Regions from separate parts of the Homo sapiens genome. Here region 2 is linked to region 1. A link means that fine-mapping ties the variant in region 1 to the expression of a gene that starts in the linked region. Tissue or cell type: whole blood. Region 1 holds a variant in brackets; the other region holds the start of a gene. All regions are shown on one strand. Distances are from middle to middle.

Region 1 (8,191 bases):
TTAAACTGGAACATGCTTTTACTTTATTGCCCTAACAATTTTTTATTAAATTTATTTGAAAATGCATCACATGATGAAAAATTATAGTAGCTTATAAGAGGGCATATACAGTGAAGAGTAAGTTTTCCCTCCTACTCTCGATCTTCCAGAAGCTGTACTTTTACCAGTTTCTTTGTCCCACCAACTTAAAAAAAAAAAGTACAATTCATTGTTTTGCAAAAGTGTATGGTAGGGGCTTAAAAGAAACTATAAAGTTTTATTTGAATGAACACTATGCACTGCTGTAACTGGTAGTGTTCAGTAAAAGCAAAATGATAGTTTTCTAGATGACATAAAATTTACATTTAATACAGATAAGTGTTCTTCAGTGTAATGTGACTTCATGCTATATATCTTTTGTAAGACATTTCCTTTTTTAAAAAAATTTTTGCAAATAACTGATCTCAAGTATATGTCATTTACTCAAAATCTGTCATAAGCATTACTTTATAGCTAGTGACAGTGCATGCACAGCCTTGTTCAACTATGTTTGCTGCTTTTGGACAATGTTGCAAGAACTCTATTTTTGACATGCATTAATCTTTTATTTTGCACTTTTATGGGTGACAGTTTTTAGCATAACCTTTGATAAAATACACTCAAGTGACTTGGACTTAGATGCTTATCCTTACGTCCTTGGTACCTTTTTTGTATTAACAAACACTGCAATTTATAGATTACATTTGTAGGAAGTTATGCTTTTTTCTGGTTTTTGTTTTACTTTCAACCTAGGTTATAAGACTGTTATTCTATAGCTCCAACTTAAGGTGCCTTTTTAATTCCCTACAGTTTTATGGGTGTTATCAGTGCTGGAGAATCATGTAGTTAATCCCATTGCTCTTACAAGTGTCAGCTTACTTGTATCAGCCTCCCTACGCAAGGACCTATGCACTGGAGCCGTAGGAGGCTCTTCAGTTGGGCCCCAAGGATAAGGCTACTGATTTGATACTAAATGAATCAGCAGTGGATGTAGGGATAGCTGATTTTAAAACACTCGGCTGGGCACAGTGGCTCACACCTGTAATCCCAGCACTTTGGGAGGCTGAGGCAGGCAGATCATGATGTCAGGAGTTTGAGACCAGCCTGGCCAATATGGTGAAACCCTGTCTCTACAAAAAATACAAAAATTAGCTGGGCATGGTGGTGCGTGCCTGAAGTCCCAGCTACTCGGGAAGCTGAGGCAGAAGAATCACTTGAACCTGGGAGGCGGAGGTTGTGGTGAGCCGAGATCGCACCACTGCACTCCAGCCTGGGCGACAGAGCGAGACTCTGCCTCAAAAAACAAAACAAAACAAAACACTCACCCATCAACGAATATAGACTCTTCTCTCATTTATCGATGATCCTCTTTTTCCATTTTTTAAGTACTTATGTGGAAGCTAGTCTCCCAAAACACAATCTTTAGAGAGAAAAGACATGAACGAACTCCAAAATATCCATTTAATCAATCATGTTTTTGGCTTTGGATAAAGAACTTTGAACCAGTTTTTTTCTCAGGAGCTGTCAAATGGACACTTAATTATGACATGAGAATGAAGAAATTATTTTGGAAAAAAAAAATGACCTAATTTACCTATCAGTGAAAGCTTTATTTTCTGGTGCCTTTTGAAAGTATATGGAGTCATATCATTCTTCTGTTTAAAATGTTAGTTTGGTTTGACTTTCCACTTTGTCCTTTCTGCTCTTGTGAAGAAAAAAAAAAGCATTTTCGAGGAAAGAATTATGCAATTTCTTTTGTTTTCTGTGTCATTATTTATTGCTTTTTCAATGTGCAGCCAGTGGATGGTTTTAGTTCTTTCAGATGAACTGCCATTTGTGTTTCAGCTCACAGTTCTTTGCTGGGTAAAAGAAATACTTTCTGACAGTCACCTGAGCCTTAAATGTAAGTATTACATGACATGCATTCTGTTTCTTCCAGAGTTCTGTCTGCCACACGAAAGAGAATATTTGCTTACTTGATAGAACTTTGGCATTTTCATCATTCTTTTACTTAACCAGGCTTATGGCATGATCTCTGGAACAAATTTGTAGGAAAAAATTACTCCAATTGAATGACTGATGTATGTAATCAACTTCATTGGGCTGCAGTAAACTAGTGGAAATTAGAGAGTTGTTTTATTGGTGTTTTCTACTGTGAGTTAATTAAAAATTGTTTTTATTTGGGGTCATTATGTCACAGTCTTGAGTTAACAAGATCTTACGTGATTGGCCTTTTCTTTGTTTTCTCTTAGGAGTTGTGTCTCATGAATGACAGTACTAAAGCTATTAACAACTAAGAGTTTGACAGAGAACTATAAGCCTGTTGTATCTCCTAAAAGTTGTCAACTCCCCACCCTTGGACTTTAAATGAAAATTTTATTCAGTCCAGCTATTCTTACAGTCCCTAAGGATTTTCATATATCTATGTATAGGAGATAAAATTTGCTAGTAAGATTTTTAAAAACTGGCTAGTGAAAGGAAAGTACCTCTGAAAGAAACCATTTTAGCAAATTATGGTTATATGTTTTAATTTAATCTACAGAATGTTTTATAGTAAAATTCTAGCACCACTAGAATAATCACATAGCATGTACAATATATTTATGCTGGCTGAAAAGACAGAATCTGGGAATAATAAAATTGCAACCAGTTTGGTAATGCAAACAGCAGAATAGAATGAAATCTCAGTAATGAATTAAAGCAACAAAAAGATATTGATTGGCAAAAAGCAAGATATAAGAGATTCATTTGCTTAACATTTCTACATAATATTTATGGTCTGGTCAGTATTGGTCTGGTCAGTATTGCCTGGCTGACGTGAAATGTAAACTAGTAGGCGTGTTATTGATCTGCTAAAACTAACCCTCTTTTTAAGAGGAGATTTAAGGAAGACGTCAATCAAAATGTCAAATATGTGTGTCAGAATATAAATAATTTTTCACATTGTATTGTTGCTATATAAAAAAAATAATAGAATTGGTTGGGTTTCTGAGGTGAAATCCAGAGTAAGAGTACTAGACAGTTCAACAAGCCACATCTAATGGCACAGATAGAGGATGTAGCTATTTTATACCTTTCATAACATTTGAGAGTAAGATATCCTTCAGGATGTGAAGTGATTATTAAGTACTCATACCTGAAATCTGTTGTCAAGATTAGAACTGGGGTTCATGTTAAAAACCTTCCATATTACCTGAGGGTACCTGTGGGGAACAGTTCCTTCCCCTGTGTGGTAGTATTTTGTTGGAAGAGAATGTTTATACAAAAAATGAAATTCTTCCAACAGCAGAGAAACTCTAAAAAGTTTGATAGTACCTATCAAAGTGCTGTACTTCTGTGATAGAGAACATCTGATGTACCAATTTAGATCTATTTCTTTATACTTTTTCTAATCAATTGCTTAATAGTACTTTGGATGATTATCACCTTTGCCACTTAAAATATATAAATATCCTTTTTACTTCATGAGGAAGGA[A/G]GAATTTTTTGATAATTACTGAGTTCAGCCTTTTGTGATGACTTATATTTTGGACTTACATTTTAACTTTAAAGAATGTCAGATCCCTTCTTTGTCTTACTAGTTAAATCCTCACCTAATCTCTTGGGTATGAATATAAATGTGTGTCATCGTTATATTGTTCAGCTAGATGAGCAAGTATCTTAGGGTAGTAGGTAGCCTGGTGGTTTTAGAAGTGTTTGGTGATTTTTATGGAGAGAGTTTTCCTAAGTGGTGGTTTATAGGTGGTATCAGATATTATTAGGGCAGCTTTTTGGGGAGTAATCTCAGGTCTCCCAGAGCAGCAGCATTTTTCTCATTGATATAAGTAAGATTCTTAGGAGCTTTTCTTATCACACAAGATGCCTGAATCGAATGTGAGAATTGAAGGCATTTCTTCTGCATAAACAAAGAATTCTACCTGCTGGACAGAAACCTGGAAAGTTCTTTGGAATTCGCTGAATTACAGTTTAGTATGTCCTGATTACAGAGTGACAATATTTATCAAGCCTTTGTTATATTGGATTATCTTCTCTCTTAAAATACAACTGTATTATAATTGAAATGACAGCCCAAAATTGGATGGTTTACCAAAACCAATGAAAGGGATTTCACACATCAATTTTTATTTCTGTTTTGAAGAGCACATGCTATATAATAATTGCTAGTAGCAACTGCAGTAAAACAGGTGATAAGTTATTTTCTCTGAAAAGATCCAGTCCTAGAGCAGGATTCTTCGATCATTCATGGCAGAGTGAAAAAGGTTTGTATGGTTCTTGTCCAAATAACTCAGTTCTTAAAATTCTTAAAATGATCGTAAACCATTATCCTTTAAAGGTTTATTTGAAGATGCTGTTAAAGTACAGAATTTTGTGTACAGGTAGATTTTTCCGTCCCTCATTAATAGTGCCTTCTTAATTAATACAGACTGGTGTTAGCTATAACAAAACTCCAGTAAGGCCAAAGAATCCCAAGTTCTTTGTGGAAAAAAAAAAAAAATCTTTTAGGGTCAGATTTTCCCTTCTAATATCATTGAAGATGATGTTGCATTGATTTATTCATAAAGTATTTTAACTATAGGAACTCTAGAAGATAATGGTTAGGCAAGTGATTTTTTTTTTAAATATGGTTGGCGTAAGTTGTATTTTGAAATTCACTTATTTTAAAATCGAAGAGGATTGTAATCATGGAAATAGAATGTTTGTATCTACCTGCCCACATTTTCTTAAAAAGATATTTCATATACAGATAATGAAGACCAAGCTAGTGGCTGCACTGTAGGTCTGCTGCTTATTTGTATTTGTTGTGCTTCTGTTTATGTTGTAGAAGCTGAAATTCTAGCAACATGCTTCAATTCTGTTATTTTGATACTTATGAAAATGTATTAGGTTTTACTATATTGTGCTTTTGAAAGCCATAACTCTTAAGAACTTTGTTTTTGCATATTGTTTGCTAATTCTTTACTTTAATAAACCTCAAAACCTGCTTAATGTGTCTTTTTTTGTTTTGGCTCTGGAGTTGGCCTGCCTGCGTTTGAGTCATGGGCCTCATAGCTTAGACAAGTTGCTTAACCACTCTATGCCTCACTTTCCTGACCTGTAAAGGAAAAGTCTACTTCATAGGAAGGATTTGAGGGAAGATTAATTGAAGTGTAATACAAATACAGTATTTAGAACAGTACTTAGAACATAAGAACTCAAATATTAAAATTGTTACTATCTTTTACATTTCCACTAGTTCTTTGATTCAGAATAATTACTTCTTATGTTGCTTGACCTCGGTGTATCAACCTTTGATGATCCACTTTGTGAATTTACAATTTTTTATTTCCTTTTGTCTTCTTTTTTGAAAAAATTTTAAATCACAGACTGACTTTGCATCATTGTCACTGTGTTGCACACTTTTACCAACCTCTGAATTACATATACAAGACATGCAAACTCATTCTAATTAGAAAGGAATGGTGAGCGAGGCACAGTGGCTCAGGCCTGTAATCCCAGCTTTTTGGGAGGCTGAGGCAGGTGGATCACCTAAGGTCAGGAATTCAAGAGAAGCCTGGCCAACATGGTGAAACCCCGTCTCTACTAAAAATCCAAAAATTAGCCGGGTGTGGTGGCGCGTGCCTGTAATCCCAGCTACTTGGGAGGCTGAAGACAGGAGAATCGCTCGAACCCAGGAGGTGGAGGTTGCACTGAGCCAAGATCATGCCATTGTACTGCAGCCTGGGCAACAAGCGATACTGCGTCTCAAAAAAAAAAAAAAAAAAAAAAAAGGAATGGTGAAAAATCATGTGCCCTTGCCAGAAATGTAGAAAAACCCAAACTACATATTAACCCTAAAGGATAAAGATAAAAGCACTTGTTCTTTTTTTTTTTTTTTTTTTTTTTAATAGATAAAAAAGACTCTATTCAAGCTTGTCCAGCCTGCACACATGGGCTGCATGTGGTCCAGGACAGCTTTGAATACGGCCCAACACAAATTGGTAAATTTTCTTAAAGCATTATGAGATTGTTTTGCGAGTTTTTTTTCTTTTTTTTAGCTCATCAGCTATCGTTAGTGTTAGTGTGTTTTATGTGTGGCCCAAGATAATTATACTTCACTGTGGCCTAGGGAAGCCAAAAGATTGGACATTCCTACCAATTTCTGAGAATCAGTTCCTTCCTATGTCTTTTTACTTAAAAGGCATTTTGTAAGGTATTTTGTAGCAACATCACTGGTTGTTTTAGAAGTGTATTTTTTAAAAAAGCACACTTGTCCTAGCGGAAGAAGGTTCAGTGAGCACTAAGAGGATGTTGGCTTCTCTTGGGTTTAAGATAATTAGTTTTCAGGTTGCTGTAGCCAAAACAGTTCAGGTGATGAGGGGTTGGGACAGTGGCTAATACTATTTTGTATTACAGCAGTTTTGATGCAGCTATCGTTTTATAAACATTTTTAAGATTGTCAGTAGACTGCAGCAATGCTTATAAGGAAGATTTATTTAGAGCTCTGTAGTATTTATGATTGAAAGAAGGAAGCATTTTTAAAACACCCTTCCCATTTAACATTTTAAATATTACTGATTTTTGTCATTGAGTTTGTAAGTCTATCATAAGCTTTGCAAAAACAAAACTTGTTCTTTCTATCTAAATCAGTTTTTCTGTTTAAAAAAAGGGTAATGGGGCTATAGGGAAAATTCAAAGAAGAGCTATGGGCAGCTTGCTTAACCATCTCCATGTTAACGTATGTTGGATGGGAGGTGGGAAGAGGGATTTAGACTGGTGGTGAAGACTTATCCATATTATATCAAATGGGTGTGTGTATAATTCCTAGTGAGAGATTTTCTGAGGCAGTTTATTGATGTTTAGAGATGGATTTTGAAAAGATCCTTATACTTTGTCTTAATCAGTTACCCCTTCCCATCTAATAAACCTCCTTCATTATTTCATTTTAAATAATACTTTCATTTGAGATAAATGCTGAGAATTTTAACAGAAAAGTTAAAACTGAAACCCCCAAACCAGTAGCAAAGGTTTATGAGTGTGCCCTTCTAACCTGTTCTGGTAGTCACTGTACATTGATCCTTGGCTTTCTTTGACAGATACTTTGCTGATTATAGATGGAGCTCTAGCTCTTTTTGAAAGGGTTCTCAGAGAAATTGGTTTGGTTCTAAAGTGTTTCTTGAGTTCTTTGTACCTAAGAAAGCCTTTCATTCTGCATAGCGTTTATCACCATCCAACATATATATTTCTTTACCCTGTTTATTGACTGTCTTACCTCATGGGAATGTAAGATCTGTGAGGACAGACCTGTGTTGCCACTGCTAGAACAGTTCTTGATATGTTATAAGTAAGCATACCAATATTTGTTGAATGAATGAGAGTACTGAAGCAAGAAGTGAATTTTTTAAGTATTAGAATTTACCTTTTAAATAATGTAATATTTACTTCTTAGTTGAATTGCTTCTAGCTCAATGTTTTATTAGCTCTCTTTATGCCTGAGAAGTGGTTTGATGTGGGGTGGGGTATTGTGGGAGCTGGCTAAAGTATAATTGAGAAGAAGGGGAAATTCAGCTAAGAAAGCACTCATATCCTTTCTCTTTGAACTTTTGGACTTTTGCTCCAAAGTTATCAAATTCTTGGAATTGTTGCTTGTAGAACCTGCAAAATTAATAGTCAAGTTAGAGCTTTAACCTGTTAACATTTAATATTTTCCCAAAGAAAGTAGGAAGGGCATAGTTTCCTTGATACGCTTGACAAGAGAAAATAACCCCAAAAAGTGTACTTTTAATTACACAGCTTACAGAAGCTGGGGTGTTACAAATTTTGTAGTGTGATTTTAGTGCCCTGGTTTAGACCCCATAATATCCTTCCCTAACTGTTGTACATAAGGGGCAAGCCTTTCATTGCACTCAGGTGGGAGTGGGAGCAAGGAATACCTTTGAGAGAGAGAACGTATGATAAAACAAATACATGAACCATATTTGTGCTTCAGAATAAAAGATTAATTTTGCTGAAGAGTGTGTGTGGGTGATGTAGGGGGAGAAGTTCAGGAAGAAGAAACAACAGGGTCTAGAGGGTTTTTTAGATTTTGTCCACTTTATAGTTTTGCCAACATTAGTTCAGAAGTGTAATTAACAGTAAACTTTCCCTAATTGCCTTTTGTTTACATAAAATTTTGTGAAATGTGGTTTTCATTAACTTA
Region 2 (8,191 bases), 50 kb before region 1:
GAAATGATATCACAAAGGAAGCAGGAAAAAGATGATTGGAAGGTATTGGGGCAGACAAAATCCAAACTACTGCAGTCTGGTAGAGATGGTAAGAGGGTAGTTGAACTTACGGGTCTGGCGTCCATTAGCCAAGTTCAAGATGGGACCAGAAATTTGGGAATTGTCTATAACAGATGGTACTAGAGGCCTGGGAGTGAATGAGATTACCTAGTGGAGTAAGAAGAGAAGAGGGTCTATTGTACTGTAAAATGAATACACACTTTATGTGACAAACAGATTTGCTAATTCGTTCTTAGAAATTGCTGGCATATCAGGAGAATACATGTGTTTTTAAAATAAACACCTGTATAGCACTTACTTTGTGTCAGGAACTGTTCTAAGAACTTTGCAAGTCTCTATGCATGTAATCCTCATAATTCTATTAAGCTGATACTACAGTTATCCCCATTTTACAGATGAGGAATCTGAGGCAGAGATTGGGTTAAGAAACTTGTGCATAGTTATACAGGTAGTGAGATAGTCTGTGTTCAAACAAAGAAGTCTGGCATCAGAGTTCTCATGATTAAGACTTCATGTAGTTAAAGAGCTTCCTAGAGAACACAAAATTTTCATCTCTTTCCCCTCTCCTCAATTCCATAACACTTTCAGATTTTCACCTGCTGCTCTGGATTTGTGGTGGGGTACACATGTGGTTTGGCTTATCTGAGACTGTCTCTGAGGATGAAAATTGAGAAGGTAGAACCCCGGAGGTTATTCAAGTTAACTTGGGGGGTGTTCGCCATCAGGAGAAACAGATGCTGTTTAAGTCAGGAAGAAATGAGTGTTCGCTCCAAGGCCTGCTTCAGAAAGCCTCTTTGTTTTATGACTCTGGGTGCAAGCAACCCTTTTAATTTTGTGTCTTGGATTCCAGCCATAGGAGGCCTTCTTTAATGTGGCAGATGGCTGGAGACAGGCAAGCCAGGTTTCTAGACTCTACATTAAGCTGCCTTCCCTAGAGAGGAGTCTCCTAATTATGTTGCTCTGAAAAAGAGAAGAAAAGATACCTTAAAATGGACACATTAAACTTATACCACGTGTAAAGTAACCACTGTCTTAAGCATCTGCAAACATGTGGAGGTCAGGAAACCTTTGAGAATCTGATGAAAGCTATAGGCTTTTTCTGCAGAAAATTTGTATGTAGGTATATACACAAAAATGTGCACATTAATTCCCGGGGGTGGGGTCACAGATTCTCTGATATCCGTCCCTGAAGCTTCAAGGAGTCTGTGGCTGCCAGATTCCTGTGCTTTGAGTGGAGGCAGCTGTCATTCTTTTACTTTTTCATTTTTCAATACATTATGATCTCAACTTCTGAGCTATGAAAATAAAGGGTCTGTGGATTATAAGGGAAGCATTTCACACCAGAACACCAAAATTTTACTGGAAAAAACTCCTTTCAAATATTGGATAAAATTACTTTTGCATATTCTCTGGTCAGCATGGAAGGTTTGCTCATTCTGTTAAAGACTGACATGAAATCTCTTCTGACAAACATGATGAGCTTTTTCTTACTGGATTGTGGGGTGCGCCTCTGCACATCATTTCCTTGGAACCTCACTCATCTCAGAACTCCTCAGTTGAGTTCTGGCTTCTGCACTGTTTCCAATATTAAGAATTGGGTGCAGTGGGCAGTCTGCCAATTAAAGAATAACACAGAATTCTCAGAATTTGGAAAGGAAGCTTTATTGTTTCCAAGGACTCTGCTGGAGGAGTCATACAAACTTCGCCATTTCTTCCTCTGATGTCCATGTGCCATGATTGTCTGAGGAAGGGAGAAAAAGTCTTTGAAGTGGCTACCAGGATCCTTTGCAGATCTCTGGGATGTCATTCACTCATGCTTCTATGCTGGGTGACTCCTACCATCATCACATTCTTCCAATTCTCCCAGTAGGGTATGCAGTAGTCATGTAGGCAGAGCCTTCTGAGCTACAGCAAACTACAAAATTAAGATATTTATTAATGATTTTCAAACCAAAAACAATTTGCCTCAATTACTAGACATTTTAAAATTAAAAAATACAGAAATGTTTCTAAATTATTCCAGTTCTTCATCTTCCATATATTGTCTCACCTTTCCTGAAAGTTGCCTCCTTCTTAGACCTGAAAAACTCAAGGAGGGAGTAGGTCATGGGCTAAACATTTAGGCTAATTCTCTACATGAAATTGATAATATAAATGATTATTGAAAAAATTCAAAGGAAAGGATCATTTCTTCTGTAAACATCAACCCAACCCAAGAAAAACTATTTGGGATTTAAATCAGGGTTTCTCAACCACAGCACAACTGATATTTTGGGTTGACTAATTTTTGGTAGAAGGAGGCTGTTCTGTGCATTGTAGCATGTTCAGCAGTGTCTCTGACCTGCAACGCCTAGATGCTAGTAGCACCGCCCTCCTAGTTGTGACAACCGAGAACATCTTTAAACATTGCCAAATGTTTCCTGGGGGTGCAGTCACCCCTGGTTGAGAATTATAGGACTAAATTGTCCAGAAATAGGTTTCTCTACAAGTAAAGTAAAATTGAGTATTGGAGTTGCTTTTATCTGGTCTTCTTGATCAGGTGAATGGCTAAATGAAAAAAGCAGTTTGTCTATTTTGATGCCCCACTGACTATGTCTATCTGTTCAGATCATCCTGTTCTACATTTGTTCTTAGATCCCATTTGATTGCCAAAAACAGGGACTTCCTTACTTCATTCTTATGGTTCTGGGATTCCTGTTCATTTGCTGTTTTATAATGTTTTTGACTGTATAGATATTTAGTGATCCCTCTGATTTTCCATAGTCTTTGAGGTCTAGGTAATTTCTTAGACCTTCGGAAGGCTGCTGGTGTGGTACTAAAATCTCCATTCCTCTCTTCTATGTTATCTCTTCCAACTTTAGACCTAAACTGAGCTCAAATAGCAAGTTGGAGAGGCTGGAGTTGCTGGCTGATTTGATCAGTATGTGGACACATAACTTAGGAAGCAAAACTGTTGGCTATGAGATTACATATGTGATTATGAAAAGGAATCTTGTAATCACAAATTCTTCTGACGTATGTACAGTGACTGCAAAACAGCAAATAATTTGTTTTGGGAAGGATTTTATTGGCTGTTTGAAGTGAGGAGTATCTCTACTATACAAAATATTTAAACCAAATTGTTATGTCCTATAATGTTCAACAAAGCACTCTGCAAACATCAGTTCTGGAAAAAAAAAAAACGTATCCTCCAAGGCAGGATTATATGCACTTCTGGGAGTTGTAAACCCATGCAGGCTCCAGAAATATTTGCCTTCCAAGGGCTGGAAACTTCTGAATTAACAACAAATAATCAGTGAGTGTGACAAAGAGTTAAAGTACACAGACTTTACTTTCTCAAAGTTTATGATGTAGTAAAGAAGTTTAAGATGGAGACCTGAAATTGCAAACTGGTGGCCAGTAGGCTAAATCGGGACCATGGATTTGTTTTGTTTGGCTTGCATGTAGTTGGCCTCCAGAATGTCTAACAGAGTGAGAGGAAGGGAGCGGGGTGGGGGGCGGGCAGGAGACAGGCAAAGAGAGAGAAAAATAGAAAGAAGTTGCTAAACAGATATAATTGAGATTTTCACATAAAAATCTAAATTTCCAGCTTTGCTTGAAAAATCAGAATATCTGCCAACACTGGGTCCTTATTCCCACATTTCCCTATGGTAACAGTTGGCTGGAATGAAATAGCAGTGACCCCTTTGGTCTCTGGAACTAGACACTCACTCTCTGGTCTCTTCCCCCACTTCCCCTTCACTCCTTTACTAGCCCTCTGTCACCATTTCAGATGGCCACCCCTAATGCAGAGACTTCTGGACATTTATTTAGTTTCTTCTCCACAGAAATAAACTTCTAGAGCCTGGAGCAAAATAGTGGCTGCGCCATTTGTGTGTCAGATGAGATGACCCTGGCTCGGGCCATGGAGGTGGCAATTGAGGTGTGAGAAATGGTCAGATTTAGGATAAATTTTGAAGAAAGAGTCAGTAGAATTTCTGATGGATTGGATTAGGGTGTCAAAGAGCATTCCAAAATGACCCCGATTTTGATTTTTACTTATTTTAAAAAGAAAACCTATAATAGAACATTGGAGAGCCAGTATTGACCTTTTCAAATAAAAACAAAATTATTCAAAAGCTTTTTCTTACTAGTACTATTCAAATCGGGTACCCTATGTGGTACCAATATTATATTCTAGGAAATACTGACGGTTTTGGAAATTTGGAGGAAAAAGCATCGAGAAGAGCTCCAATTACTTAGAAAAGAGAGTCCAGGAGATGGGGTGGTGTATATAAGCCTATGGATGGTGTCTCTGCAACTCAGTGGCCCCGCCTGTCCAGGGGCTGGGTCCCCACGGGATCTCCCTCCCCACAAGGAGGTGGAGAGGCTATGTGTCTTGAACAACTGGGGTTGCGATCCAGTGTATGGGCAGTCCCACTCCTGGAACTCCAGGGTGGGCACTCGCTCCATTTCCACAGGCCCTCAAGGGTTCCAGGATTGCCCCGTGGGAGGGGTTTTAGTGCTGCATCTAGTAAGAAGCTGTAAGATGCTCAGAAACATGTTTTGAAGCTACTTTGCACAGAAAGAAGACTCTTCATTCAGATTTGTATTACAGATCAATAAAAGTAGCTAAGTCGTATCTGAAGATGTTTTTGTTTACACTTTGTATGTGACAGAAAACCTCCAGTTGTCTGTGTCAAGGACAATTACTTAATTTTATTACAATGTATACTGATTTGGTTAGTGGAAGCTTCTAGCGCCTACTGTGGTGGTGGTGGGAGCTATCTGATTCCCATTCCCAGGCCTGGCCATCGACGCGAAGGCCTCCAGCTGATCGGAAGTCGGCGTTGGCCGGCGCGGAGCCCGGCGCGGAGGCTTCTTTCAGCCGCCCGGGCAAGACACCCCTCCCTCGGTCCCGCAGCGGTCACTCCGCCTCTGGCGCGCATGCGCCGACCCCAGCGGGCGTCCTCCCGGGCTCCCTCTCCCTCCCTCCCTCATCCGGGTCCTGGGCGAGCGGGCGCCGTGCGCGTGTCCCGCGGCCGAGCTGCTAATAAAGTTGCAGCGAGGAGAAGCGCAGCGACGGCGTCGGGAGAGCGCGCCTAGCCGGCTCGCGAGTGAGTGAGGGTCCCCGGCGCGCGCGGGCGAGGGGAACTGGGGGCTGCAGGCTCTGCCCCGGCGGACTCGGGCCGAGGCGGGGGCGTTCGGCCGCGGACGGAGCGGAAACGACCCAGGGCCTGTCGGGCGGGAGGTAGGCCGAGTCCTGGCCTGCCGGGGTCCCGGCTGGCGGACACGGTGCGGCCCAGCGGCTGCGGAGGCCTCGCTGGCTGCCCGGGGCGTCCTGAGGCGGGGCCGGGGCTGGCCCTCGTCCCAGCCCCGCTGTTACCGCCCAGACTTTGGAGGGAGGCGTCTGGGACGCCCTGGAGGGGACCCCCTGACCCCGCGCTGTCCTGGGGAGCGGTTTGCTTTCCTAACTCATCGGATGTACCACCCTGGATACACACCCTTGATAGGACTGCGGTGCTCGGCCGGGCAGCCTGGGCTGCTGCACTGCGAAGCTGTCCAATGGCTTGATGAATCCGTGCCGCCGTCGCTTTGTGTTTCAAAGATAAGGATCCGCGCTTATCGGTGGGAATTACACTCTGGGCAGTTGTGACCGGCTACTGCAATCAGCTGGTAGTTAGACCTGGTTTCTGCCACTTGCCATGTCAGTTTTCACCACTGCAAGGATTTCTTCTACTTCATGTAAACTTCTCTGTGCTGCAAAGAGAATGCCAAAGCAGCGTCTTTTTGCCTTCACCATATTCAGCCGCTGGCCGGGTCCTATACTTCAATATCAGGGCTCAAATTAATATTCCAGTCTCTTCCCCTCCCCTTTTCCCCTCTCCTCCTTTCAGCTGCTGTTACTACGTGGAGTTTGGAGCCTAAGCTTTGAAAACTCCCATGTGGCGCGCCCGTCTTAAGTCTGAGCATGCTCAGTAGCCAAAACAGATTTTTGGTTGCAGAACTCGGGCGAGGATACTTGGGGTATTTGGACGTTTGCCGGCTTCCCAACAGAATGTTCCGGTTCTGGTGGTGATGGCATTGGAGAATGGGGCTTAGGCAAGCCTGTAGGTGAGGAATGGCTGAACACCCTGAGCCAGATGTTTATCTTGATTGTAAAGACAATGTTTCCTGACCAGCTGGAGCTTTGGGGGGGGGGGGGGGGTGTTGCGGGGGGAGGGAGCAATTTTGGTTGCTTGTGCATTTAAATGGGTGTGGCGCTAAGTATATCTTGTTTACCTTATCTTTCTGTGGAAAAGTTTTGATGTCTAGGTTTGTCACATCATGCCTGTTGCCTAGCACTACCAAAAGGGTTGTTATCTAGCAGCAAAGATTGAATAGGTGGAGGTCGTGGCTTGGCCTCACAGAAGTTGAGAGGAAAGGGTACTTGGGTTGCGTTTTTGAAAATTCGTATTTAAAACTAGAGTACTTGAATTTCCTTAGAGTACCTGAATTGCCCAGAGTGAATTAGTTTTTAATTTTAATTTGAAAGACAAAAGATTGAAAACCTTAGTCCCAGTAGGTTTAGTAACATTCCAAATAGCTTACAATTTCTGCTAGATGCCAATGCAGTAGTATCCATTGTGGGGAAAACAGTACCTACATTCAGTGTGACAGTTTCACATTTATGGATCCAAATATCATTATGAAATTAGTGTTCCAAATTTAAGGAGCTATTTGCAGATGTATAACAAATTATTTTAGTCTTTTATTCCTTTGGTAACTATTAATATTTTTTTCTCTACAGTGAAAATTGTAAAAATGCAAAACTTAGACAATTTAACAAAACTTAACCTTCATAAAGGTTGTAGATACTATGTTTAGATTTATAAAGTTTAATTTTGATGATTATTTGTGTGATTGTTCCTATACAGCTTCCTTTCCTTCCCTTTCCACATTGTTGCTCCCTCAGTCTTTTTTACATTACTGCTGTTAATTTACCCATGTATCTTTGTTAAAAATACCTTATTCATCATTTTGTGCTTCCATTCCTTTCAGATCATAGCTGAAATAAGCAAGAAAAGTTAGATTAACCTTCTCAACTGACTTTACTCTCAGGTTTTAAAGGCATCCACATGATATGGTCTAGTTAAAAGGAGGAAGAGAGCAGCAAACTGGAAAAAAAGAATAAAATATTTTCGTAGGTTCTGTACAGATCTGGTAGTATTATCTGCGTGTCTGGTTCACTGTGGTAGGCGCCACAGAAATGGGTAGATTGATAATGTGTTGGATTTCTTTCCCCTCTGGCAAAGTCAGCTATTAATTTCAGTGGGAGACAGTGGCAGAATGTTGTTACTAATGAGGTTTGAATCAGATTGTTGTTTACTGTTGGTTATGTAACATGTTGCTGGGAGTATTATTAAAAGTTGCATTCTGCAGCAAAGTAGAGGCAAGTAAATTCTGCTTACCCTCTTCACTGGGTTTTAATTCTTGGCTGAACCTGAAGGCACATTAGATTACAACCATAATTATACCTGGGCAGCCTGTCTGTTTCCTGTTTTCATCATGAACCCAAACATTATGATTTGCAGTGATGATCTTTTTTGTCCTTTGCATTGAACGGAGGCAGTGTGTTTTCTCCCTCTACTGAAAACAGATTTGTAACTTGGTCAAATTAAAGATTTTAGTGTTTTGAAAACTAGGCAGTAAAATACCAGTTTTTCATTTCTTAATACAGTTACTTAAGTTGAAATACCATCTAAAAAAATCTATTTCATATATATTCTTTGTCTTTATGTAAATTTTAATATTACTAGTACTTTGTAGAGTTAAAGAAACTCTTTTTGTTTATGACATATCAGTGTTTATTATTACCAGATGTATATGTTGGTCTAGGCAATGAGCCACACATCTGGGTGAATTTCAGAGCTGACTTGAGTACGCTTGAGGATATAGGTGTCTATTCTCTTGGTTTATCAGTCTTCCCTGTTTTTACTTCTAGACGATCTATATTCCTTGTATCTGTCTGTCTGTCTCTCTGTCTCTCTGTACACTAACCACAAAGAAGGCAAATAGTTTATTTCTTCAAATGTTACAAGCAGCTTATAGCCTATGATTTGCCCGTCTTCTCATAGGGTCAAAGACATTGAGTAAGATTCCCTTTTATAAG

The links. PIP is the estimated chance that this variant, and not a neighbour inherited with it, causes the effect.
Region 2: SMAD5 starts here. The variant in region 1 is fine-mapped to the expression of SMAD5 in whole blood (INTERVAL, PIP above 0.99).

The regions. Positions count from the first base shown.
Region 1 is chr5:136,177,738-136,185,928 of GRCh38, forward strand. SMAD5 (SMAD family member 5) reads left to right here. Exons shown (of 8, transcript NM_005903.7): 8 at 1-4,996. Among named protein-coding and RNA genes, the nearest start is that of SMIM32, 11 kb to the right of the region's middle. The variant A/G (reference allele first, on the strand shown) is at 3,494.
Region 2 is chr5:136,127,807-136,135,997 of GRCh38, forward strand. SMAD5 (SMAD family member 5) reads left to right here and starts at 5,039. Exons shown (of 8, transcript NM_005903.7): 1 at 5,039-5,156. It overlaps SMAD5-AS1 (SMAD5 antisense RNA 1), which reads right to left and starts at 7,084. Exons shown (of 2, transcript NR_026763.1): 1 at 5,544-7,084; 2 at 1,707-1,975. RefSeq lists enhancers at 4,303-4,362, 4,393-4,442 and a silencer at 4,753-5,392.